Linked DNA regions of Homo sapiens: all the other regions are linked to region 2. The links come from fine-mapping of genetic effects on gene expression. A gene starts in region 2. Each other region holds a variant in brackets. All regions are shown on one strand. Distances are from middle to middle.

Region 1 (4,089 bases), 180 kb after region 2:
AGGCTGGGCAGAGGTCACACAGTGAGTAAATGGGTCTTTTCAGTGCAATGTGGTTATGATAGAGGCATGCCAGGGTGCCACTAACCCAGCAGGTGTGGCAGGAGGGGCTTCACAGAGGAAAGGGACTTTGAGCTCAGTGTTAAAGGATGAGGAGTGAGTCATAAGGGGGAAAAATGGAAATGACTTTCCAGGCTTCAGAAACAGCATAAACAAACAAAGGCCTGAGAGCTGGAGTCAGTGTGGTGTGTCCAGGGATCACAAGTGGGCTGGAGCTGCCGGAGAACAGCCAAGTGGCTCAGCTGCCATCCCAGAATTGAGCTCGTCACTATCAGATGCTGCTGCTCCCTGGCCTCAGAGGAAAGCAGCACACAGCTCACCACGAGGGGTTTCCCCAGAGGCTCCTCCTGCAGCCAATGCTACTATTAGTTTATATTATAATAGTATCAGTTTCTTTTTCTTTGGAAATCCCTAGAACTGTTAACTGAAGGTGACTCAGGGTAACTAATTCTGGATCTTTGGGTGCACAGCCTCTCACTGGAGTCTGAGAGGAGGAGGTGGAGACTATCAGTGCACGGCCCGCAACCAGGAAGGACTCCCAGACTAACGCCAAAGGTGTGTTGGGCTCAGCTGCTCCACTGTGGAAAAGGAAAGCCCTGGCCCTGTGGCAGGAGAGGATTGTTCTAGTCAAGTGTGGCGTTGCACGGACAGGCGGTGCCGAGTGTTTGGGTGCAGACACAGGCAGCTGCTGCCCTCCACTTCCTGCTCTTGCAAGTCACAGATGATTCCAGTACAATGTGGGAGGTCCTCCTTACAGGGGCACTTGCAACAGGAAGGCAGAGAGTTTCGTCAATTCAGGTACAGGTCTGTCTGGGAGACCTGGCCCTGTGGAGGCAGGAACACCGTGCAGGGGCATGGCAGCGCCTGTCTTTGCTATCACATCATTTGCCTTTTCCTTGTAGGACCCAAAGATCTATGTCCAAAACTTAGTCCAGAAACATCTGCATTCCTGTTTAAACTTCAGCTCAGTTTCTTAACCAAGAACCACGTCAACCCTCCAGGGTTGTGGTTTGTATTTTTGCCTTTAAGCATTATCTCCTTTCCACCAAGAAGCCTACTTAGGTTTAACACATGAAAGCAGTGTCTAAAAATTAGATCGGTCCTAAATTGGAATGGGATGTCTTCCTTGCATGTCCCATACCAGGGAATTTTTTTAACACACAGTGTAGAGCCTTTGCCAGAGATGTTGAAAGGGAGATTAAAGGCTTGAGGGATGAATTTGATCATCATTCTTAAAGTCCCTTCCAATCCTGTGATTCTCTGATTCCCTGAGTCTCGTTTATTATTGGACATGCCTAGCCCATCACCAGTGACCTGCCCGCATATTGCTGGCTTCCCTTGGATAACGGAGAGCCTATCACCACATGCCTTTGTTGTCTTCCATCATATCAAGTGAGTTGCTTTCTGGACTTTTTCCATCTAGAGCCTGCTAGGTTTGGTTTTGAGAAAAGATGGTGAAGTTTCTTTTCATGAGTTTGTAGGGCAAAAAAAATTCTTTTTAAAGATGGTAAGGGTGGAAATTAATCATGGTACCATCTCATTAAAAATAGATACCTCAAAATGTTTACCTTTACAAGTCAAGAAGAGTATCTGACTTTCTTGGAAGTGTCAAGAATTGCAGGTTGGCTGAAAAGTTAGATTGAGAATCTGACCTTGTTACTTATGATTCTTTTTTCCCTTGGTTCTCGGGGATGCATGAGAAGGTGAGCTGTCACTCACAAAAAAAGGGAAAATGATTTGAAAAATGTTTCACATATACACTTTTTATCATTTTAGTGGATGGCAGCCTTACGTCAGTAGTATATGCCACTATGAAGTATGGCCAAAACCCTAGCGTCACTTGTAACCATTGTACTCTTATGGATTTGTGTCTTACACCATTTGCCTTGCTTTTTAAATGACTTTGTTTTTCAAGGTGCTGTCATTTTGCAAAAGGAAATCTTTATATGAAATGTACAAAAACCGTTACTAACTGGACAACAGGGAAGGTGCTGGCCCCACATTAGTGCCTGCCCAC[C/T]GCTCTACTTCTAACCAGGGACACGGATCTTCCATTCTCTACATCCACCGGACTGCAGCCCAAGTCTGGACCTGGCTGCAGTGGGCATATTACCGTATGGATATCTTTTTCTTTCTTTTTTTAAAGTGAGGAGATTCTTCAGGGGGTCAGGCTGAGAATGTAATAAGCCTGACATTGGAACAGATTTCTCCCGTGTGGTCTAGCTGGACCCCTCCGGCATTTGCCACACTCCCTGCCAGTCCTGACATTGACTTCCTGAATGTGATTAGGTGGTAATGAGCAAGAATTTCCTAGGATATTGAAACATCTGTATCCAGGCCCCCAATCAAATGCTGCTGAATATTGTGAATGTTTTTACTCCGCTCACTTTCCCACTGTGCTTTCCTCTAACCAAAATATACGTGTAGCCATTACCAATGTACAACTCTCAATGCGGAGTTGCCGCCACGGTTTAAAATAAATCTCTGTGAAAACCTTTCTGCAGCTATGGTCCCATCACGGTTACATGTGGCCACGCACACACCGACAACCTTGCTGTGCTGTTTAGCCCTGTGGGTTCTGTCCAGTTGGTGGGAGGGGGAGGTTCCAGACCACTCCACCTGCTGTCTAGATGCCAGGGAGAGCTGCTGTTTGGAGGTGAAGATGAGCCCTGTTCACCACAGTCTAAGCACAGCACACGGGCTCAAGCCATGGAGCCCTTTTCCTTCATCATGTAAGTCAGCTTTTTCTTGTGCTTAGTAAACTTTTCCAGTGAGGAGAAATGACTTCGGGGCAAACACTGCCAGGGAAAGCCTCATTTAAAACTTGTGAGGTTCATTTTATGGAGAAGAAAAATAGGTGCAAAGGCACCAAGTGACCTGCATGCTATGGAATCACCGTTGAGGGGGTGGCTGGGTTGCCCCGTCCTGGTGCTGCCAGCACAGCGTCGCCCACACCCAGCATTGCTGAGGCCCATCATCCTCCTGCAGAAAAGGAGGCATGCAGTTAAATGGAGCTGGTGCTTGCTTGATAGCGCCTCCTTTTGTCAGAAAGACGCTGATGTTTCAGGCTGGCACACCCAGAAAAATCCCTTCCTTGTGGTCCTTGGCTGATGATGAGCCCTGGATCAGAGTGTCTCCAGGACCACTGAGAAGCTGCAGCCGTCTGGGTTTTCCTCTGCTATGGGGGATGAGTTACGTTTATTCCACCATGGACACCAAGAATGTATGTAGATGTATTCTAAATCTGCTCATTGGTTTTATTACAACTTTTCCTGGAGTCACTAAGAGGTAAAATGGTGTAAATTAGAGGTTTTATCAAAGTGTAGTACCAGAATGCCAGATGCATTACTGAAGCCACTCCTAATCTTAAGCAAATGTAAACTAGGCCTCATTAAATTGTTTGTGTAAATATGCATCGTCCCTTGGTTATGCTGTGCTTCTGGGACCATGCACAGTAAAGGCAGTGTCCAGCCCTCTCCTGGGGCGGGGGGGGGGGGGGGGTGCACAGCGCCAGCCTCTGACACTGGAGGAGCTGAGAAAGGGAGGGGAAGTGGAGTTCACAGGGGGGCATTCCTGCTGCCCCCACCCCTGCGTCCCCTAAGACTGAAATGATGGTTCATCTCAAACTTCGAATTCTTTAGAAAACCATTCTCGAATAAATGAGACTTAAAATAAGAAAAGAACCTGCTGCAGGAGTTCAAGGTGAGCCTGATCACAGCCTCGGTAGTATTTATTTTGAAATAAAAGTTCCCATCCCTTGTAGGCCTCGCTGTGAGGCACAACGTCTTCGAGGGGAAGTTGAAGTGGGGTCTTCTTATTCACTGGTCCCTAGACCGCACCTTCTGGTATCTTCTAAGGCAATTCTGGTACCGCACTGTGTCTGGGTTGGCCTATTTAAATGTCTGAGCCAGCTGTTCCAGGATTTCAATGAGTTTCTCCTCTTCGGCCGGTGAGGAGGACGCTGTAGCGAGAGGCAAGTGTGTAGAAACTGGCTTCCGATCTAAAAGTGAGAGGGAACCGCAGAGAGGTGTGAGC
Region 2 (4,089 bases):
GGCCCGTGACATAGCCCTTAGGAGGTCCTGAGAACATGTGCCCAAGGTGGTCGGGGTACAGCTGAGTTTTATATATCTTAAGAAGGCATGAGACATCAATCAAATACATTTAAGAAATACATTGGTTTGGTTCAGAAAAGTGGGACCACTTAAAGCGGGGGCTTCAAGGCTATAGGTAAATTTAAACGTTTTTTGGTTGACAATTGGTTGAGTTTATCTGAAGACCTGGGATCAACGGAAAGGAATGTTCAGGTTAAGGTAAAGGATTGTGGAGACCAGGTTTTATTGTGCAGAGGAATCTTTTAGATAGCAGCCTTTAGAGACAGCAGGTTGTAAAATGTTCCTTACCAGACCTAAAACGGTGCCTGGCTCTTAGTTGGTTATCTCCTGGGTGTAGGAAGGAAGGAAGGAAAACAAAGGGGAAAGGGGATATAGAATGTGGATTTTTCCCACAAGAGACTTTGCAGGGCAATTTTAAGGCATGGCAAGGAAATATAATTTGGGGTAAAACATTTTGATTTTCTTCCTTGTTACGCCAGAGTCAGACTGGAAAGTAAGTCATGACCTACATGGTCAAAACCCATCTGATGAGAATTTATGGTTTTTGTAGGCCATGACTCCCCAGACCCCTTAGATAGGAATTTGGGCAAGATAAAAAAGCAGAGCTTAGTCTTCACGATCAACCCCACATGCCAGGCCTTCTGGTAGGCACCTAACATTCAGTCAGTAACTACAGTAACTCTGTCCGTTGTGTCTGGAGCAAGCTAAAAAGGCTGGATTGCTGGGGAAATGGAAAGAAGCCAGCACTAGGGGCCTGGGTTCAAGTCTGGAGGGAAGGAGGGGTTGTTTAGCCCTAACTTTGCACTAAAGTAACCTTGGCTGTGTAATTTAGCCATCTAAGAAAACGAGGGGATAGACACCCCATATGTTCTCTGAGCTCCCTTGAAGATGTCTGTATGAAAGATTCTCTCCTTTTCATGTCCCTTCCGTGCCACTATTCCGAGCATCAGTCTGACCCTAGGAGTGGTGACGTCCTACTCAGCTGGGGGCTGCCCCTCAGTTCCCATAGAGGCAAGTCTGGGTCCTGACTTGGCCAATGGCCCTGGAGGCCGCTGAGCTCCTCAGGCCCATAGCGCAGAAAGTGGGCGATAGGTCATTCCAGGACAAGGGGGCGGAGGCTCCAAGAAACTACGACTCCCAGGAGGCCACTGGGTTCCCTCCGGCAGCCTGGGCCTGGTGCATGTTGGGAGCAGTAAGCGGCCTCCCGCCGCGCTTCATTGTTAAGACCGCTAGGCCAGGTAGCCCGCGCGCATGCCAAGTCACGTCCCAACGAGTTGGGCGGCTTTCCTTCCTGCAGGCCTCTTCTCTTTCCGGTCTTGCTGAGGCGCTCCTTTCCCCGCCCCACCTCCGCCCTCTTTTCAGGGAATTTCGAAGGGGCGTGGCGTCTGGCAAGCGCGTCCCCAGGGGTGTGTATACGCGCGTTCACGGGAGGTTAAAGAGGGAGGAGCCTAACCCTTGGGTGTGTAAGGCAGAGAGAAGACCGCGAGGAACGGAAAGCGCATGCGTCCTAGTGGTGCTGCAGCGCCCGGGGAGTCGCGGAGGGGAGGGGTGAAAATGGGCTTGCGGGACTGACGCACGCGCATTGGGATACCAGATCCCCGCCTCCTGCTCCAGGTTTCCCCTCCTCCTTCACCACCCTCCCGGAAGTGGAGCCGCCCTCGCGCCCACCAGCGGCTACCCCCTGCGGCAGGCCCCGCCCACACAGGCTCCGCCCCCCGGCGCTCCGCCCCCTCCTCTTGTAGTGGCGCCGGCTTGCATCCCAGGTCGTGGCGGTTTTGGTGCCTGAAGCAGGGAGCGCGGAGTCGTTCCCGAGAGAGGCGGCCAGGCTATGCTCGCCGGTTTCCGGCGTTCCGCTCCGGCCAGCCAGAGTCTCTGTCTCAACCTGTGTCCGTGCTCCAGCAGTCTCCTCAGCCCGGCCCCGCGGCGCGGTTGGCGGCGGCGCCCCAGGCGCGCCCCCTCCTCCGATGGCGGCGGAGATCCAGCCCAAGCCTCTGACCCGCAAGCCGATCCTGCTGCAGCGGATGGAGGGGTCCCAGGAGGTGGTGAATATGGCCGTGATCGTGCCCAAAGAGGAGGGCGTCATCAGCGTCTCCGAGGACAGGTATGGACTACTGCCATTCGGCCGCGAGGAGGGGCGGGACGGGCCGACGGCCCTCGAGCCCGCGTCAGGGGCTGTGCCTTCACGTCGGCGCGAGTGTAGACTTGCTCCCCCAAGTTTTATTGTAATGCGCATCCTGGTGGTGCCGGTGTTCAGCTGCGCGCCGCCTCCGCTGTGTGGCTCCGGGAAGCGGAGCCGGGACGGCGGCGAGCGCTCCGGCTTCACCCCGGGCTGGGTAGTGCCTGCGGGAGCCGGGTGGCCCTCGGGCTAACGGTGCGCTGGAGGGACTTTGGTCCATCCCTGAGGACAGGAGGGAAAGAGGGGAGGAGCCGCCCGGCTTTGCAGGTGTGTGCTTGGGGAACGATGCCCTGAGCCGCCTCTGCAAGATAACCAAGGGGTTTGGGGTACTCTCGTACAGCTCCCAGGGTTTCAAACGGAGAAAGCAAATGCCACTCCTTCTTCCCAGACATTCCTACTGAATCCAGATAACCCAGACATCTTAGGCTGAATTCAGTGAATATTCTAAGTTGTACCAAGAGTAAGTTTAGGCTTCTGCGTGGTGCCTTCTTTCCTTTCCCCTCCTTATCTCTTGGAGCTCGAGGAGAAGCGCGTAGAACTTGTAACGGATCACTGCTGCAAATAGCTCTTGAGTTCCTTCCCTTTGCCTGTTTCCTTTATTTTTGCTTAATTTTGCTTAATATGCAGAAGTGGAACTAGTTGTTCTGCCTTCAAATACTCTCTCTGTTTTGCGTTTTCGCTTTAACTGAATTTCCTTGAATATGCAGGAATAAAGCTGATGAAGCTAATTTCTAGAGTAATGTTGCTTGAAGATAGTATTATGATAATTTATCTGAAATTGTTTCTTTGGTAAAATCTATATAAGCATTCTTACAAAAGAACACTGTAGAGGTACATAACACGGGGATTTTACAGTAAGTAGGTTTTCTTAATATAAGTTCAAATCATGCAGAGGTAAAGTATCCTTTCTTGGTGACTCAAAATTGAGAGGCTGAGCAACAAAGTGCTCATTGCTGTCTTTATAGTCATTTCCGCACTTAGCATAGTGTGTGGCCTCAACAATTGAGCTCGATAGGTTTGTTCATGTCTTAGGTTCTTCAGTATAACTAGGATGAGTATATTAATGACATGTTCTTGTCTACATCATGCTCAATACAAATGGCGCCTGATTAATTTCCTGTGCAGATCCAATGGAAAACATTGTAAACATACACCAGTGGCAAGCATTCTGCAATGAACAGAAGAAATTCATGGCTGAAATGGAGTACATGGATGTAGGACCCTTTTGAAATTCACAGAGAAGCCTTATGAGAAAGTTTGATTTTTTCCATAAAGGCAAAATTTTATTAAAAAGACTGCTTCTGGACCTAGAAATTCTTTGGCACAGTATTGTTTTTATGGGATATATTCCATAAAATATATTGAAGGAATATATTGGTAGATGTCACTTTCCCAGTCTGTAACTACTGGAGATGGAACTGATCAATTTCTAACTGCTGTGGAAAATTCATAAGCAAATTCATGGAATCAAGAAAAGGAGAAGGGTAGTTAAACCTAAGCTGCTTTAATATTTTATTTATTTTTTTAAGACTAGTTAAGTACGGTAGTGAGAAGGGGAAGAGAGTAGAACAAGGAGTTCAATCTGTAACTGACTGTGAACAATTGAGATAATAAAACTACCTTCAGACCATCCTAAGCTCCTTTAATATTAAGGTGTTATTATAGTATTGAAACTTCTGATTCCCATTTCACCACATTTACCTTGAAGGAAACAGCTTTACTGGGGTATATTTTCAAGTGTTTGGAGACGCTGAAGTAGTGTATATTAATGAAACTGAAGAATAAATTTCATTTGATTATAGGATGAAAGAAATGCAATGTTCAGCTATGTCTTAGCCTAATTTTCACTTTCC
Region 3 (4,089 bases), 150 kb after region 2:
ATATAAAGTGCAGGTCAAGAGATGTGAATTGTCATCCATAGTCAGTCATCCGCTCTCTATGTATATGATGGTGCCAGGAAATGTGGGTGAATAAAACAAGCATAATCTTTGCCCTTATCCATCTTCCAGCCAGCATGGAATGCATGCATTAGACCAGTAGTTACAGAGAATTCATCCAAACATTATGAGTAGCAGGTGCCGTGGAGCCCTGATGTGCACAGAGGCTTCTTTGGAAGCAAATAATAAAAGGTCCACTCCTCTTGCGGATAATTAAAGGGAGGCTTCCCAAATAAGTGTGTTTTTGTTTTTGTTTTGAGACAGAGTCTTGCTCTGTCACCCAGGCTGGAGTGTAGTGGCACGATCTCAGCTCACTGCAACCTCCATCTCTTGGGCTCAAGCAATTCTCCTGCCTCAGCCTCCTGAGTAGCTGGGATTACAGGTGCACGCCACCACACCCATCAAAGTTTTTTTATTTTTAGTAAAGATAGGGTTTCACTATGTTGGTCAGGCTGGTCTTGAACTCCTGACTTCAGGTGATCCGCCCACTTCAGCCTCCCAAAGTGCTGGGATTACAGGCGTGAGCCACTGTGCCCAGCCAGAAGTGGTGTTTAAATAGCACCTTAAGGAGAAAAAGGAGTTATGTAGGTGGTGGGAACATTCCAGACCTGCAGAACAGCAGCCTAGAGTGGGAAAATGTTAGCAACCACACAAAGGCAAGTGACCTTACAAGTAGTGGTAGGAGCTTCAGGCATTATTCTCAGGTTGGCGGGAAACCAGTGATGAAGTTTAAACAGAGTAGTGACATGGTTTGCATTTTAATAAGCCACTGTGGCAGCAGTAGGTGGTAGATTGACTGGGAACAGAATGGATGGAGGGAGACTGTTTAGGAGGCTACTGCTGGAGTCCCTTGGAAAGCTGACTTTGTTTGGACTGGGGGACAGCAGTGTGTGTGGAGACAAGTGGAGGAGATTTAAGATCTGTTTGGAGAACAGGGGTCAGCCGCATTTGGTAACTGCATGGAGTAGCAGTGACTCCCAAGGCTTCTGTCTAGAGCATGTATTGGCTGGTGATGGCATTTCCTGAAACCTGGAGTACTGCTGGGAGAGCAGGTCTAGGAGACAATAGCACTGTGCTTGAACTGAACACTTCCCTGGGGTGGCAGCAAAGAGACAGCTGGGTGAAGAGTTATGGATCTCAGGAAGAAGGTATACTCTAGAGATGGAGGGCCTTTAGCTTGACAAAAACCCTTGTCACTTCACTCTAGAGCAAAATGCAGCAATCAAAAGGTCAGATATTTTATTCAACAGGCTCTTAGTCTCCTTTAGCCTCATGTTGGCCTGCACATATTACCCTTGAGGGTGTGGTGTGACACTCCCTCTGCTAAGTTACCAGATCACACTCTGGGAAAGGCAGACCCAGCAGTTTCCAACCCTGATTTTGTAACACTCCACGTGGTCATTCACTTTTGCAAGGTATGTGGTAAAAGTCTCAAAAAAAAATTAGTTCCCTAAGCATTTTGGTAATATATATTAAATTTCTAAAAATCTTTATACTCTCTGATTCATTTCTACATTTGGGATTCTCTTCTAACTAATTGGAAACCTGAACAAAATTGTATGTGTAAAAATATTCATCTTAGAAAAATTCATACTTAAAAGTTGAGAAAAATCTAAAAATAGTTGAAATAAGATACATACGTGGGAGATATTAGCCAACCACTAACAGTTATATTTATGAGAGTATATAGTAGTATACATTGTATAATTATGAAAACTTTTATTTTAAAAATATTTTGGCGATTTTTTTATTTTGATAAAATACGTGTAACCTGAACTTTACCGTTTCAACCTTCTAAGTGTACAAGTAATGCACAAGTCAATGACATAAAGTACATTCACAGTGTTGTACAGCCATTGCCTCTATCCATTTCCAGAACTTCTTCATCATCCTTAATAGAAGACCTGTGCCCACTAAAGAATAACTAGAAAACTTTATTTGTAAGAATTAAACCATTTTTATTTAAAAATTATTCTGTAGGTCATATTAGGGAGGTCAAAGGAAGGGAGAAGCATAAAATGAAACACTGAAAGGGACCAGAAAGATGGATTAACTTGAAATGAAGTCAAATGAAATGGAAGAAATGCTTTTTGTCATTTAAAATAGAAACACTGGAAAACCACAAGCATTGAAGCCCTGGGCT[C/T]TGCCCCCAGTGTGGGTTGGGGTATGAGATATGTGTCTGCACTGCCTGGAATGCAGGGTAGCTGAAGGTGGTTGACTTCCTCTGCTGCCAGAAGTGTTAGGAGAAAGAACTATACAGTTCATCAGGAAGCCCTGTGTGCAGAGAGATGCAGGAAAAATTCCCTCAGAAGGGAGAGGCCGTTTCCATCAGCAGCTCTCCCCACTGCATCTCTGATCCTGATGTCTTGCACAGCCTTCCCACCAGCCGCCATCCCAGGCTGTCCTGGATGCCTCTTGCTTATTGTCCTCCTATTTCTCTCTGCCACTCAATGCAGCAGATCAGTTGAGTAAACATCTACTGAGCACCTCCTGCATACCAGTCACTGTGTGCTGTGCTGGAATACAAAGATACATAACCCAAAGTCTGCGGTGGGGACAGACTTATAATCCAACCAAGTTCAATATAGTGGGGTCTGTGTAGCAATAGAGATATGCACAGAGACTGGAACTTCACCTGGATTGAAGGTGTTGGGAAGGCTTCCTGGAGGGAGAAAAAGTTACTTGGGTGATAAAAGGCAGGACAGGCACTCCAGACAGGGGAAGCAGTCACATATCCCGTAAGAGAATGGCTCGACCAAACATAACGTGCATGCTCTTCTGTTCTCAAAAGTAATCCATCATCTTATCATTGTACATTTTTGGTAGGTAGAATGTAAGTCTTATTTCATTGTATCTGCTGAGCCTAGCACAGTTCCTCCACATAGAAGAGGCTCAATACATGCTTGTTGAACTGATTTGAAATGAATGCTGTGATTTATCATTTATAGGCCAACTTTCAAATGACCTCATTGTTAGGACATTTATATAGAGCAGGCATGGGACCCCAGAGTTATTTACTCCCTACACCATCCTAAACTTTTTCTTGTCTTGCAGCTTTTCCTTCTATCTCTTCCACTTTGGGCCCTGGGAGTGTCTGATGAATATACCCTGACTTGCTTTAACCAGTTTATCTATTTGCCTTCCTAACTCTCTGTGTTGCCAAGAACTCCCCTTCCTAGCCCTGACCCCTTCTGGCCTGATATAATGTGGCAAAGCTAGAGATTGGTCTTGTTTTTAAGACCTTAATTGATCTCATGATGGCTGGGATAGCATAGAATAAGCTGACTGGCCTTAAGGCTGACTCAACAAAGGACACTGTCACAGAGATTGTATAGATGAGGTCTCCTGTACTGTAATCATAGCTGACATTTGTTGAGTGGTGCTTCCCATGTGCTAGGCACTGTTGTGTGTGTTTATATATATTAACCCAATTAATCTCAACAATACTGTGGGTTAGGTACTATTATCATCCCTGTTTTACAGATGAGACTTCTGAGGCACAGAAACGTTAAGTAACTTGTCCAAGGTCCTATACCTAATAAAGATAGGGCTGGGATTTAAGACTAGATTCTGGTTCCAGAGCCTGTACACTTATAATACCATATCCAAACTTTCTCTTCTATCCCCATAAACCATCCTCATCCCATAGTCACCAACAAAGAAGGCAGAGAGCTGGCTCCTCATGGTGCAGTGTTTTTTGTTTTGTTTTGTTTGGAGACGGAGTCTCACTCTGTTGCCCAGGCTGGAGTGCAGTGGCGTGATCTCTGCTCACTGCAACCCCTGCCTCCTGGGTTCAAGCGATTCTTCTGCCTCAGCCTCCCAAGTAGCTGGAACTACAGGTGCGCGCCACCACGCCCAGCTAATTTTTGTATTTTTAGTAGAGATGGGGTTTCATCATATTGGCCAGGCTGGTCTCAAACTCCTGACCTCGTGATCAGCCCGCCTTGGCCTCCCAAAGTGCTGGGATTACAGGCGTGAGCTACCGCACCCGGCCCCATGGTGTAGTGTTCTTAGATGTGTAGGTATATATCG
Region 4 (4,089 bases), 210 kb after region 2:
AAACTGGATTTAACTCTTGGCCTCATTCCAGAGTTTCAGATTCTGTAGATCTGGGTGGGGAATCTAAGAATGTGCATGTCTATCAAGTTCCCAGGTGATGCTGAGGCTGCTGGTCTGGGAACCCCACTTGGAGAGCCACTGGCCTGATATAAAATGACTTCACTCTGCTATTACAGAGTAGCAACCAGAGCCCAGGTATCTGTGCTCTAGCCAATGCGCTTCTTGGTCCATCTTCTTGCCCACTGGTTGCACCTTCCTCAGCCCTGGCTGGAAGTTCCTTTGGTTGCAGTTTTTAGACTTGCACTCAACACTTAAGCTGAACTTGCTCTCCTCTTCAAAACAATGTCTATAAACAGCCTAGCGCTTCCTAGGAAAAAAAACACTTCAATACTAAGTATTTCTGGCACCAACACCTATTATAAGAAACATGAAAAGAGAAAGTGTTTTATGAAGAAAAATAAGTACAATTCAGAATAAACTTAAAGCAAACGTCATCAGGCCCAGGACCAAGAACCAAAAAAGTTGGTCAATTTTTTTTTACCCTTCTATGGTACATTCTATGTTTATTTTGCTAAAAACAAATAAGAAAACTTCTTGTACTTACCCAGAGTATTGGCAGCAAAGTTTTTTTCAAGTCCATCTTCTGTGAGCTCTCTTTTATTGACCATGCAACCTGCATTATTGATCTAAAATTTATAGTTCTCATTTCAAAATAAAGAAAAATAGGGCCAAAAGACCTATTTCCATCCCCACACCTCCACTACCCCACCCCCAGCTCTTTTTCAACTTTCAAGTGACAATGACAATTTGCTCAACTGATTCTTTACTCCAAACCCTTTGCAGGAAAATACCACTTGTGCAGAGGATTCAGCCACAGAACTGTGCAAAGATCGCCAAGTGAGACAGCTTGGCCAGGCAACCTAATTCATGAGAGAGTGCTCTGGAAATTCATCTAGTCCAGAACGGTCCAATAGAAATATCTAATCTTAAGATTTCTAGTAGCCACATTAAAAAGGTAGTAAGAAACTGGTAAAATTAATTTAATAATATATTTAACCAAATATATCCAAAATAGCATCATTTTAACATGTAATCAATATAGAATATTAATGAGATGGCATAGATAATTTTTTTCAGGCCTTGAAACCTGCTAATTTATACACTTACACCACATCTCAGTTTGGACTAGCTACATTTCAAATGCTTCACAGCCACACTGGACAGCACAATTCCAGACTCTGGAACAACGTTTCAGAGCACATCAGAAACTCTTCGGATAGAAAAGCAACTTAGCTCCAAGTAGAGTATCTGGGAAGAGCACACTGGGACTCTTTCTATCTGAGTCTACCCAGGCTCTCCATGGAGTTTTGTGCTAATTATGTTACTAAAAGATTTGCCTGTCTGCAGGAGGTATTCTTTTGGACAAAAAGAGCTTCTAATTTCAACACACCAATCCCCAAATCTACAGAATTGAGAAAAATTTATATACAAATCATCATTTTATAAAACATGGAACATATCTATCCTCCCACAACACCTACCCAGTGGATGGCCCCTTCCTTTCCCCACTAATCTAACCACATGCGTCTCCTCTTAAATCCAATGAGTAAACTTGATTCCATGAACAGGCCCAAGCATAAGAGAGTCTTACTAAGATTCTTCCATAAAGACAGGCAAACATACATATCCGTCCACATCCACAGACGGAAACAATGGGCCAACATGAATTTATTCTCCACTTATGTTTACAAAGCTCACCAGAACATGGAGTTTATGTTCCTGCTTGAAATTTTCAACAAATTTCCAGATTTGCTTGGGATCAGACAAGTCCACAATGTGCAGAAAAATGTTCTAAATTAGAAAGCAAAAAAAAAAAAAACCCTTTTTAAAAAGATATAAACTAGCACTTTTAATTTTAAAAAAGTATACGGTTTTTAAAAAGCAAATACTTTGAAATGATATAAAACGGAAAATACCAGT[C/A]CCACTCCTCAAAAATAAACCATTGTTCAGTTTTTTGTGAATCATCCAGAAATATTTTAAGCATATACTATATATACAATACATATATTTTAAGATATATATTTTATATATACATACACCACACAAATAGGATCAGACTATGCATTGTTCTACATCCGTGTTTTTCACTTAACAATATGTCTTTTAGTTTTTGGTGGTAAAAACAGTTTTTACTTTTTTATTTTATTGTGATAAGGATACTTAATATGAGATCTACCCTCTTAACAAAATTTCCAGCATGCTGACTAGGTACAATGTTGTACAGTGCACCTCTAGAGTTTATTCACCTTGCCTAACTGAAACTTTGTGCCCTTTGATAGTAACTCCACATTTCTCCTTTCCCCCAGCCCCTGACAACCACCATTCCACTCTTTGGTTCTATGAATTCTGAGTACTATGGCTACCTCACATAAGTGAAATCGAATAGTCTTTGTCTTTCTGTGCCTGGCTTATTGAACTTGGGTTAGCTCCTCCAGGTTCATCCATGTCGTTGCAGGATTTCTTTCCTTTTAAGGCTGAATGATATTCCAATGTGTGTAGGTATGTACCACATTTTCTTTGTCCATTCTTCTGTCGATGGACATTTAAGTTGTTTCCACATCTTGGCTATTGTGAATAATGCTGCAATGGACGTGAAGGTGCTAATGGCTCTTCAGGATCCTGATTTCAATTCCCTTGGATAAGTACCCAGAAGTGCAATTGCTGGGTCAGATGGTAGCTCTATTTTGAATTTTTTGAGGAACCTCCATACTGTTTTCCATAGAGGCTGCACCATTTTGCATTTCCACAAATGGTGTGCAAGGGTTCCAATTTCTCCATAACCTAACAAACATTTTTTGTTTTTTGTTTTTTTAGCAATAGCATCCTGAGAGGTGTGAGGTGATATTTCACTCTAGTTTTGATTTGCATTTCCCTGACGACTACTGACATTGAAAGTATTTTTTCATATATGTGTTGGCCATTTGTTTTTTGTTTGTTTTTTCTTGAGAAAAAGAGTGCCACTGCACTCTGTCGCCCAGGCTAGAGTGCAGTGGCATGATTTTGGCTCACTGCAACCTCCGCCTCCCAGGTTCAAGTGATTCTCCTGCCTCAGCCTCCCAAGTAGCTGGGACTAGAGGTGCATGCCACCATGCTCAGCTAATTTTTATATTTTTAGGAGAGACGGTGTTTCATCATGTTGGCCAGGCTGGTCTTGAACTCCTGACCTCAAGTGATCTGTCTGCCTTGGCCTCCCAAAGTTCTGGGATTACGGGCATGAGCCACCGTGCCCAGCTTGTGTTGGCCATTTGTGTATCTTCTTTGGAGAAATGTCTATTCAAGTCTTTAGACCATTTTCAAATCCGGTTATAAGTTACGTCGTTGTTTGTTTGTTTTGCTATTGAGTTGTAGGACTTACAAGAGGTCTTGGAGATGATTTTGTTACATATGAATCCACCCTATTCGTTTTAATGACTACATAATTTACCTTTGCATGGATATGTCAGGGTTTCCTGCTGCTGATCTTTTTTTTTTTTTGGTCAAAAGTTTGCTCTTCAGACAGTATCTCAGGCACATCATAAATAAGATGACAACTTCTGCTGTGACCCTTAGTCCTTGCTCATGACACTTTTCAATCTCTGCCTTGTATCATGGTTATCACTGGACACAGCCACCTCCCCAGCAGGCTTAGAACTCCATGAGTAAGGGACCCTGTCTAATGTGCCGTTTCTCCTTATGGTATTACACACAGTCATAGGCATGGTAGTCGACTAATGGATCTTGGCTGTTTAAACCTTTTTCTCTGTACCCAGTACCTAAGTCCAAACTTGCATTCTTAGCATCCAATGAATGCAACGGCATCCTCTCTGAGCATCAGTGGACATACGTGACTTATCACTAACCCAAGGCAGAGGGCACCTAAGTATTGAACCTACAGACGAGGATCTGAGCAAGAGCCACAACTCCTTTGACAAAGCAGAGAAGTTCCGTGCCCTGCCTGAGTTTCCCCATTAATCAAGCTATAAAACTCAAAGCTGTAGTCGAATTTATTTCTACTCATCTTAAAACATATTGTTTTCTCACCTGAGACAA
Region 5 (4,089 bases), 29 kb after region 2:
TTTTTTAAAAAAAGAATATCCTTTGTTTTCAATGAATTTATTTTATCGTTGAGATTTTGCCTCAGCATACAACAAATCTTAAATGAATAATAATATATTGGATCTATAAAGCATTTTATACTTTGCAGTTTTTTCTTGCTTTATCATTTGATTGTCACTATGGTACTGTGAAGTAAGGGGTTCACAACACTGTTGGTTATCTGTTCAGTTGTCTGCTTCATTCTTTCTTGCTGGTCGAACCTCAATTTTGTTTAGGTATTTACCCCTACCTCATACGACTCAGGACTGAATCCTGATGACTCCAAGTCTGTTATGGTAAATTCATTCCCTTTGCCAGGGGTTTGGTTTAGGATTAGGCATGAGACCCAGTTCTGGCCAGTGATAGGAGCAGGGAAGTCTGCTGGTCATAAGGAAGGAGATACCTCTGGGAAAGGAAAGTTCACTCCCTTCTGGGAAGAAATACACAGGAATGATCCCTGTTTTTCTGCTGCCTGTTGTCATGACTGAATGTGACTACTTGGAGCTACAATCATGCGCACATAAGGAAAGGTAGCCTGAAAATAAGTTGACTGGCTGAATATGGCAGAAAAGAAATATGGAAAGAGCCAGCCGTCAAATGAACCAACCCTGGAGCTGCCCTACTGCTTGACTTCTTCTTACCAGACAATACATTTTCCTTATTCTAGTTGAGAGCATCCTAATTCATATTGATATCATTATTACCTTTTACAGGCAAGGAAACTGAGAATTACAGAGCTTTACATGGAATGATCATCATTAGATGGTGAATTCACTTGTGAAGCTAGGAGAATTAAGACACATACTGATTTCTAGTCTATGGCCTGCTCCACTGTGTAGCTTCTCTATAAAGCAGCCCTGCCTCCCTGTTTAGGAGGGAACTGGATTACCAAATTTAGGTATTTATGTATGAAATCCATTTTAGACAGTTCCTAAGTATTTGGTGATTGATTACCTATGACAGATACTGCTTTGGAATTCTTACTGATATCTTGTTACCAACTTTTCTTAACTTGGCTGACATAAATTAGAACTTTGAACACTTTCAAATTGTGTTTCAAATTAACACTTAGAAGTCTTTTTACAATTAAATTTTTTTTACTGTTTTATAGGTACACATTTCAAAAAGTTTGTTAAGCTCTGTCTATGCTTGTAGATACATATGCCAAAAAGTGTATTAAACTCTGAGAAGTGATATAGTCCATTTGTAAAAGGAAGTATTAAAATAATAACTAACCAATGCTTTGGACTAGTTGGGAATAGGGGATTTATGTCTGGCTTTGGCAGTTGTATAGTTCTTTGTTAATGTGGAAAGTTTATGGTTGACCATATACATTATGTTCTGTGCATTGTCCTTCTTTGTTGACTTTCTTCTCTGTTTTCTACTCTATTCTTTCTCCACCTTCCTCCCCCTTACAGGTAGAGGGTGCAGAGATTGTGATCAGTAGCATGTGGTATATTTCTTCTTATTACAGAGGCAAATCAGGACAGTGTTCAATGTGAGTAAGGGAGTTTATTCATAGTTGAAAAATTCAATTTAAAAATATCTGATGCCATGTGAAAGACACTTTGGTGGGGGAGGGTTAGGTGTTTTTGAAAAGAAAATTATTCTTGGTGGAGGCCGTGGTGGCTGATCATGAAGAAGCTGCAGCCATGTGCGGTGGTGCATGCCTGTAGTCCCAGCTACCCGGAAGGCTGAGGTGGGAGGATCACTTAAGCCCAGGAGTTTGAGGCTGTAGTGTGTGATCATCATGCCTGTGCATAGCCAC[T/C]GCACTCCAGCCTGGGTGACATAATGAGACCCTGTCTCTAAAAAATAAAAAAAAAGAAGCTGCAAAGATGACAAAGCTCCAGTCTCCTGGAGCTTACAGCATATGCCCCCCATCTCCCCTTCTTTCCCAAGCTGAAATGACTGCCATCCTGGAGAGGACCTCTGTCGAGGGCTCAATCTGCTCCTCTTGCGGGGCTTTTGCTCATTCTTCGGTTCTGAGAGGCTGGCTAGCTAAAGTGAGGACTAAAACAGGACTACATTTTGAGATTGTTCTTTCCAGTAGTAGAGTGGTTAAATAGTTCCATCAGCTTGTGCATTTCCTTCCTTATCTAGTGAAATACTTTGAAGAACATGATTTTGGACAGTGGTGGGTCTTTCCCTGGGCACATTCTGTAATATTTTCTTAATTCTTCATTTCAAGCTACAAGTGAGCCCAAATTCTTGGGAATGGATTAATGACAAAAATACATACTCAGTCTTGTATAATTGTTAAGAATTCCTTCTTAGCTGTGATTTTTTTTTTCGTGGAAAAGTCTTAGATGCCTAAATTTTATGTCACAGCTAAAACAAGCCATGTGGTGTGCTGATAAGGGTAATTTAACACCAAGTTAGCACAGGTGACACCATATGTTGCTGATTACTGACTTCTCCTTAAGGGTGTTCTTGAATTTTGTACTTGAAGTGTTTAATGATTTGATTTCTCCTTTTAAAATTAAGTATGTCTGTGAATAAGGCCAGGCGTCCCATGTAATCATGCCTGTAATCCCAGCACTTTGGGAGGCTGAGGCGAGTGGATCATGAGGTCAGGAGTTTGAGACCAGCCTGGCTAACATAGTGAAACCCCGTTTCTACTAAAAATACAAAAAATTAGCTGGGCCTGGTGGTGGGCGCCTGTAATCCCAACTACTTGGGAGGCTGAGGCAGGAGAATCGCTTGAACCTGGGAGGCAGAGGTTGCAGTGAGCCAAGATCGTGCCACTGCACCCCAGCCTGGGCGACAGTGCGAGACTCGGTCTCCAAAAAAAAAAAAAAAAAAAAAAAAGTGTATCTGTGAATAGAGAACTTGCCTTTCAAACCAGCATAGCTGTTCTTCAAGGGATTATCTCAAGCTATGAAAATGAAAGGGTTGTTTTAAAATTTATATGAAGATGTTGAGTGAACCCTGATATATAGTTTAGATTCTAGATTTTGCTGCAACGAACAGAAAACCTGACTCATTCACAATGTCTTAAACAAGTAAACGGTTATTTTCCTTTTATACCAAGAAGTCCAGAGGTGGGCATTCTAGGGTTGGTCAGTGGCTCAGAGATGCTATCAGAGACCCATGGTGCTGCTGCCTTTCCATTCAGCCATCCTTAGTGATCTTGTCCCTTTGAAGCCTCACGATGGCTGCTCTCCAGTCAGCATTGCATCTGCTTTCCAGGCAGGAAGGAGGAGAAGGGCAGATGGCAAAAGGCACGTACCAGCTGTGCCTGTTCTCTTTCAAAGAGCTTCCTGGAAGCTCAGTTCAGTGACTTCCGCTTACATGTCATTAACCAAAACTGTGTCACATTGCCACCCGTAGCTGGAGACAAGGCTGGGAAATGTAGTTTTGGCCGGGCACGTTGTCACCCTGAACACAATTGGAATTCTGTTGGAAAATATTTTAAAAAGAATTATGTGTCTGTTGTCTCTAAACTAATGGGACTCAGGAGGAATGAAATAAATGAACATTTATTGAAAATCTACACTGGGTGTTTTGCTGGGTTCTTTGAGTGCCTTAGCACTCTGAGAGATCATATACACATTGATGTAAAAGAATAAAGTAAGCTCAGAGTGCACATAAAGAGGTAAAAACACGGGGTTAATTGTATCCTTTGTGGGTGTGTTCTCTCAATTGATTTATTAAGCTTGGAATTAGTTTAAAAACTATCTTGAAACCCAGAAATTATAATGGGAAATTGTGACTAATTTAACCATATTCATATGTTGAAAGCCAGCATTCATAAATGAAGAGTTAGAGAGGATATTTGCAACACAAGTTGAAAAGTCTTAGTATTCATAATAGATTAAAAGCCTCAAATAATATAAAAAAGCTAACCCTATTAAAAAATAAAAAATATGGACAGGTAGATATTTCTCCAAAGACAACATACAGATAGTAAAAAATAAAGTTGGAAACAAATAATTAAATCAGTGCAAATTAAAAAAAAAACACTGAAACATCATTTTTTGATTCCCAGATTGGTAAATATTTTTTAAAATAGATAATAAGGATCTAAGGAGAAAAGGCACTTTTCATATATTTTGATAGTACTGTTGATA
Region 6 (4,089 bases), 320 kb after region 2:
GCCCAGCCTTCTCATATTTGTGATGTTAATGTCCACACAACCTCATCTGTACTCACAAAATTGTGAAGGAAGAGAACCTGGGTCCACACACACTTTAATGAAGCACGGTTCCTGAGTGTGGCTGCATCTGGTCCAGCTAGAAAGTTGTGCCTGGCATTTGACCTGCTAAAAAGCCAAGTTCCACATGGTCTAGAGTTCAATGCAGAAATATCCCTGGTACATATAAAGAAACCACTCCTGCTAGAGGGGTGGCGCCCGGTGGAGCTGCCTGTGCCCCACCCGCCCTCCCATGCCTCACACCCCTCTCAGTTGTCAGTTGCCCCTGGAACAGGTACTTCTGGAAATTCATATAGCCAAGGAAAGTCAAAAATGAAGAAGAATCCAACAAAAACACAGAAATACATCAGTTGACTTGGGTCAATGGCATTACTAACTACCCCCGGAGAAGCCTGGACACATCTTCAGTGTCTCTATTTTCCTTTCTGCCCTCCCCCAGTGCCCACTCCATCCCAAGTCCCTTTACAAAGCTCTGTGACAGTGGCTCTCCTAAGTATCTAGAATCTACCTGCTCTCCTAAGGCTCACTGCCTCCCCGAGTTCAGGCTTTATCAGCCTCCTCCCACAAACACGTAGCCTCCTCCCTGCTTTCCCTACCTCCAGCCCAGCCTAGCTACAATCCTCTGGGCAGAAGCCCCATTGGGTGTGTTTACATTCCAAATTTGTGCAGAAAATCCACATAGCTTCATTGGGTTACCCAGTCCAGAGCAAAAACGCCAGGCCTTTCTCACTCTGTCATCCAAGCTCAAAATCCAAGAGAGGAGAGTTTCAAGGAGGAGGAGCTTGGGAAGTTATCCACTGGGGTCAAGCTCCATGGAAAGGTCATGTAATAAAAAAACTGAAAAGAATCACTTGGGATGTGGTATCAGGGGGGTTACTGCAGACCTCTGGAGAAGCCATTTCAGGGGTGAGGTCAGAAGCCAACGTGCATTGGATGAAAGAATAAATATAGGTGGATTCTCAGTTTTGTAAGATGTAAAAATCAAGAGAAGCAAAATGAAAAAAAGCACTGATGTTGAAGACAGTTTCCCAGTTGCCTTGTTACATTTTCAGTGTGGGACTGAAGGGGTGGTAGGCATTACTTCAACAGAATCACAACACATTTTGCCCTTCTCACGGCCTGGCGCCTGGAAAAGCTTTGGGAATTATTAGCTGCTGCTATTGATGTTGAGGGCACCCACATGCCTTTAGAACCAGAATCTAAAATGTTCAGCCTCTCAATGTCTAAAATGAACTGCTGCAATGTTGCAGATTTAAAAATTAGAGGAAAGTTATTTTATTAAATACATTTTAGAATATAGGTTTTATAGAAAGTATGTTATCATAGCTACTCTAGAAGCTGAACTTGGGAGAGTCCCATGGTTAGAGGGACTGAGCATTCTGCCAACAACCAGCCCCACCTTGCCAGCCAGGCCAGTGAGCCACCCCAGAAGCAAGGCCACCTGCCTCAGTCAAGCCTGCAGGTCACTTGCAGCCCTGATGGACAGTCTGTGGGCAACCTCCTGAGAAACCCAAACGGGAACCATTCTGCTAAGCTGCTCCCAAATCTCTGACACACACAGACTGTGAAATAACAAATATTCATTGTCCGTTTAAGGCACTAAGTTTTGGAGTAATTTATTTTGAGAAACAGATAACTAACACAGCCCTGACAGCAATTGGTTATTGGCTATGTGATGCCGAGGGAGTGGATAACTTCCTAGCATGGTGGCTTCTGCTCTGCAAGGG[C/A]AATTCTTCAGGAAGCAGGTGGCTGCGGTGAGCAATACTCAAAGCTGGGAGATGAGTGCATCCGCCTGGTAAAGGGGCCCTGGGCAAGGCACCAATAGCATCCACTGGGGGTGTTGATTATAATCTAGTACCTAAATATAGTTTTGGTTTTGACAGGTCAGTTTGTACACAAACACAATTGTGGAAATATTTTGCATTTCTTTTGAAGGTCTCACCTCCTTAGTGTGTGTATCCAGGAGGTACACAACTAGAACTGGATGCACGAGGCAGCAGCAGTGGGAAGCAGCAAGGTGATCTAGAGACACTTTATTTATTACTCACTAAGTCCCAAAAAGTGCTTGCAAATATAGAAAGTGCAGGTAGAGATGATCAATAATAACTAACTATAGTGTCTTCCCTTCATTGCCATTGAGGTCTTGGTTTCCAATAAGACACTTCATAACTCATTCCTAAGCATGCTGTTGGAAATGGGAGGGAGGGAGAGGTGGCACACCAACGAGGTCAGGGAGGGAAGAGAGACTCTACGTCAGATGACGATGTCTCAGTTGTCACTTCAGGTTCTGGCTGCTCTCTCCACTGTACAAGGAAAGCCACCAAATAGAGGGCAAACTGCTCCCCCTACTCTCCCCAGAACACCCCTTTTTCCTATCCCTAGGTGTAAGTGCAGGAGACCCTGAGCATCTAATGGAGTCAGATGCTAAGTTAAACACCCAGAAGTCCCGGTTTCTATGGGGCCAGAGGAAAAGGCAGAGTGCTATTTCCAGACTTCAGTGGCAACCGAAAAATGAAAAAGACTCGTGTGGGTGTGGGGCAAAGGCTGCCCCAGAATGCCCAAACTTTAGCTTCAATAAACCTATCATAGCCATAATGAGGCAGTGCTGGGGCAGAAAAGAGAACCATATAGGGTCTTCTGCTCTGGCAGAATCATACCTGGTTGTGCAACCAAAGTGTCTTCTCACACCTGCCTCCTATGACACCATTTGGGTTTCTCCAACAGTCTTCCACGTGTGTGTGTGTGTGTGTGTGTGTGTGTGTTTAGAAAGAAGCATCTGGTCACCAGAAACTCAAAGGCCAATAACTCTTAACAAAAATACATTCACACTGGACAAGTGAACACTCAATCTAACACACAGCACCTGTGGCCCTGGGATGCTAGGCATGAGGTGGTTTTCTGCAGTGCTGCTTCTCATTCACCATCAGCATCAGAATCAGCATGAGCTTAATGACTGCTTGTTGCCTGCTTTGCAGTGATGATGACAATGATGGTAATATTAATGATGATGATGATGATGATGTTAATGAGCCCATGGACCAGATTTAGTGCTGCTGCCTATTTTGAAATTAAGAAATACATGATGACAGAAACTGAATTCAGGTAGCACTGGGCTAAAGGCAGATGACTGATGACTGCTTGGTGGCTAGCTTATATGCAATTCTTATGATGACCCTAAGGTAATTGTTGTTGATGATGATGATAATGATAATTGATGATCATGATCATGATGAGTCAGATCTGGGAAAACATCACCTGGCCTTCAGCAGCTAATGCATAGTAGTAATGAATAATTTTCTCTGGGCTTGAATAGGAATTCATGGTATGGACGTGGAAAAGAAGGAGGCTCTAGATCAAAAGAGAAAAGATAAGCATGGTCCGTTTTCAAGATATTGTGAAAAGTACAGGTTGAGCAATCCAAAAATCTGAAATGCTCAAAATTCTGCAACTTTTTGAGTATCAATATGATGCTCAAAGGTCATGCTCAAAGGAAATGCTCATTGGAGCATTTTAGATTTTAGATTTTCAGTTTGGGAATGCTCAACCAGCAAATATAATGCAAATATTCCAAAATCCTAAATCTAAAACACTTCTGGCTCCAAGCATTTCAATTAAGAAACATTCATTCTGTACTGATGTGGAGGCTGAAAACCTTGAATTTTATTTACCAGGTAGGGGAACATCATCATTAGTAGTGTTTCTTAACCTCATTAGTACTGACATTTTGGAATAGATAATTGCTGTGGGAGTCTGTTCTGTGTGCTGTGGGGTGTTTAACAGCATCCCTGCCCTCCAACCACTTGACGCCAGTAGCACACCTCCAGTAGTTACTGTGTAAAATATCTGTGGACATTACCAAATGCTCCTGGGGGAGGTCAAAAGCACCCTCGTTGAGAAGCATTGAGCTAAGAGAAACAGCAGACAACACGAAGCAGTCAACAGAGAACGGCCCTAAGCAGGAGAAGAAATGTCAGGCTGAAGGCAGTTCGTGCAGGGAGAGAGACTGTCCTCCCTCTTCCAGAGAAAAGAGCT

Which allele goes with the higher level. Alleles are on the strand shown, and positions count from the first base shown. SD is a standard deviation of normalised expression in the study named. Not every link is listed here.
For the expression in tibial nerve of the gene that starts at base 1,799 in region 2, C is the low allele of the variant in region 3 and T is the other (moderate effect, 0.65 SD a copy in GTEx).
With allele C in place of A in region 4, the expression in pancreas of the gene that starts at base 1,799 in region 2 is higher (small effect, 0.28 SD a copy in GTEx).

What was found. PIP is the estimated chance that this variant, and not a neighbour inherited with it, causes the effect.
Region 1: its variant is the best candidate, but not a certain one, in a credible set for the expression of WDFY2 in whole blood (TOPMed, PIP 0.53).
Region 3: its variant is the best candidate, but not a certain one, in a credible set for the expression of WDFY2 in tibial nerve (GTEx, PIP 0.62).
Region 4: its variant is the best candidate, but not a certain one, in a credible set for the expression of WDFY2 in pancreas (GTEx, PIP 0.54).
Region 5: its variant is the best candidate, but not a certain one, in a credible set for the expression of WDFY2 in whole blood (TOPMed, PIP 0.52).
Region 6: its variant is the best candidate, but not a certain one, in a credible set for the expression of WDFY2 in whole blood (INTERVAL, PIP 0.53).

The regions. Positions count from the first base shown.
Region 1 is chr13:51,764,243-51,768,331 of GRCh38, forward strand. WDFY2 (WD repeat and FYVE domain containing 2) reads left to right here. Exons shown (of 12, transcript NM_052950.4): 12 at 1-3,467. It overlaps DHRS12 (dehydrogenase/reductase 12), which reads right to left. Exons shown (of 9, transcript NM_001377533.1): 9 at 3,751-4,054. The coding sequence ends at 3,945. Among named protein-coding and RNA genes, the nearest start is that of DHRS12, 38 kb to the right of the region's middle. RefSeq lists an enhancer at 279-598. The variant C/T (reference allele first, on the strand shown) is at 2,075.
Region 2 is chr13:51,582,664-51,586,752 of GRCh38, forward strand. It overlaps WDFY2 (WD repeat and FYVE domain containing 2), which reads left to right and starts at 1,799. Exons shown (of 12, transcript NM_052950.4): 1 at 1,799-2,161. The coding sequence starts at 2,025. It also overlaps the pseudogene RNY1P6. RefSeq lists enhancers at 1,051-1,571, 1,230-1,509 and a silencer at 1,650-2,019.
Region 3 is chr13:51,732,740-51,736,828 of GRCh38, forward strand. All of the region lies in intron 6 of WDFY2 (WD repeat and FYVE domain containing 2), which reads left to right. The region is part of intron 1 of LOC124903177 (a long non-coding RNA gene); the gene reads right to left. Among named protein-coding and RNA genes, the nearest start is that of DHRS12, 69 kb to the right of the region's middle. The variant C/T (reference allele first, on the strand shown) is at 2,201.
Region 4 is chr13:51,789,407-51,793,495 of GRCh38, forward strand. DHRS12 (dehydrogenase/reductase 12) reads right to left here. Exons shown (of 9, transcript NM_001377533.1): 3 at 1,759-1,851; 4 at 605-686. Among named protein-coding and RNA genes, the nearest start is that of DHRS12, 13 kb to the right of the region's middle. The variant C/A (reference allele first, on the strand shown) is at 1,981.
Region 5 is chr13:51,611,384-51,615,472 of GRCh38, forward strand. The region is part of intron 1 of WDFY2 (WD repeat and FYVE domain containing 2); the gene reads left to right. Among named protein-coding and RNA genes, the nearest start is that of WDFY2, 29 kb to the left of the region's middle. RefSeq lists enhancers at 3,003-3,062, 3,093-3,182. The variant T/C (reference allele first, on the strand shown) is at 1,788.
Region 6 is chr13:51,901,154-51,905,242 of GRCh38, forward strand. It overlaps a transcript of TMEM272 not described here. Among named protein-coding and RNA genes, the nearest start is that of CCDC70, 41 kb to the left of the region's middle. The variant C/A (reference allele first, on the strand shown) is at 1,785.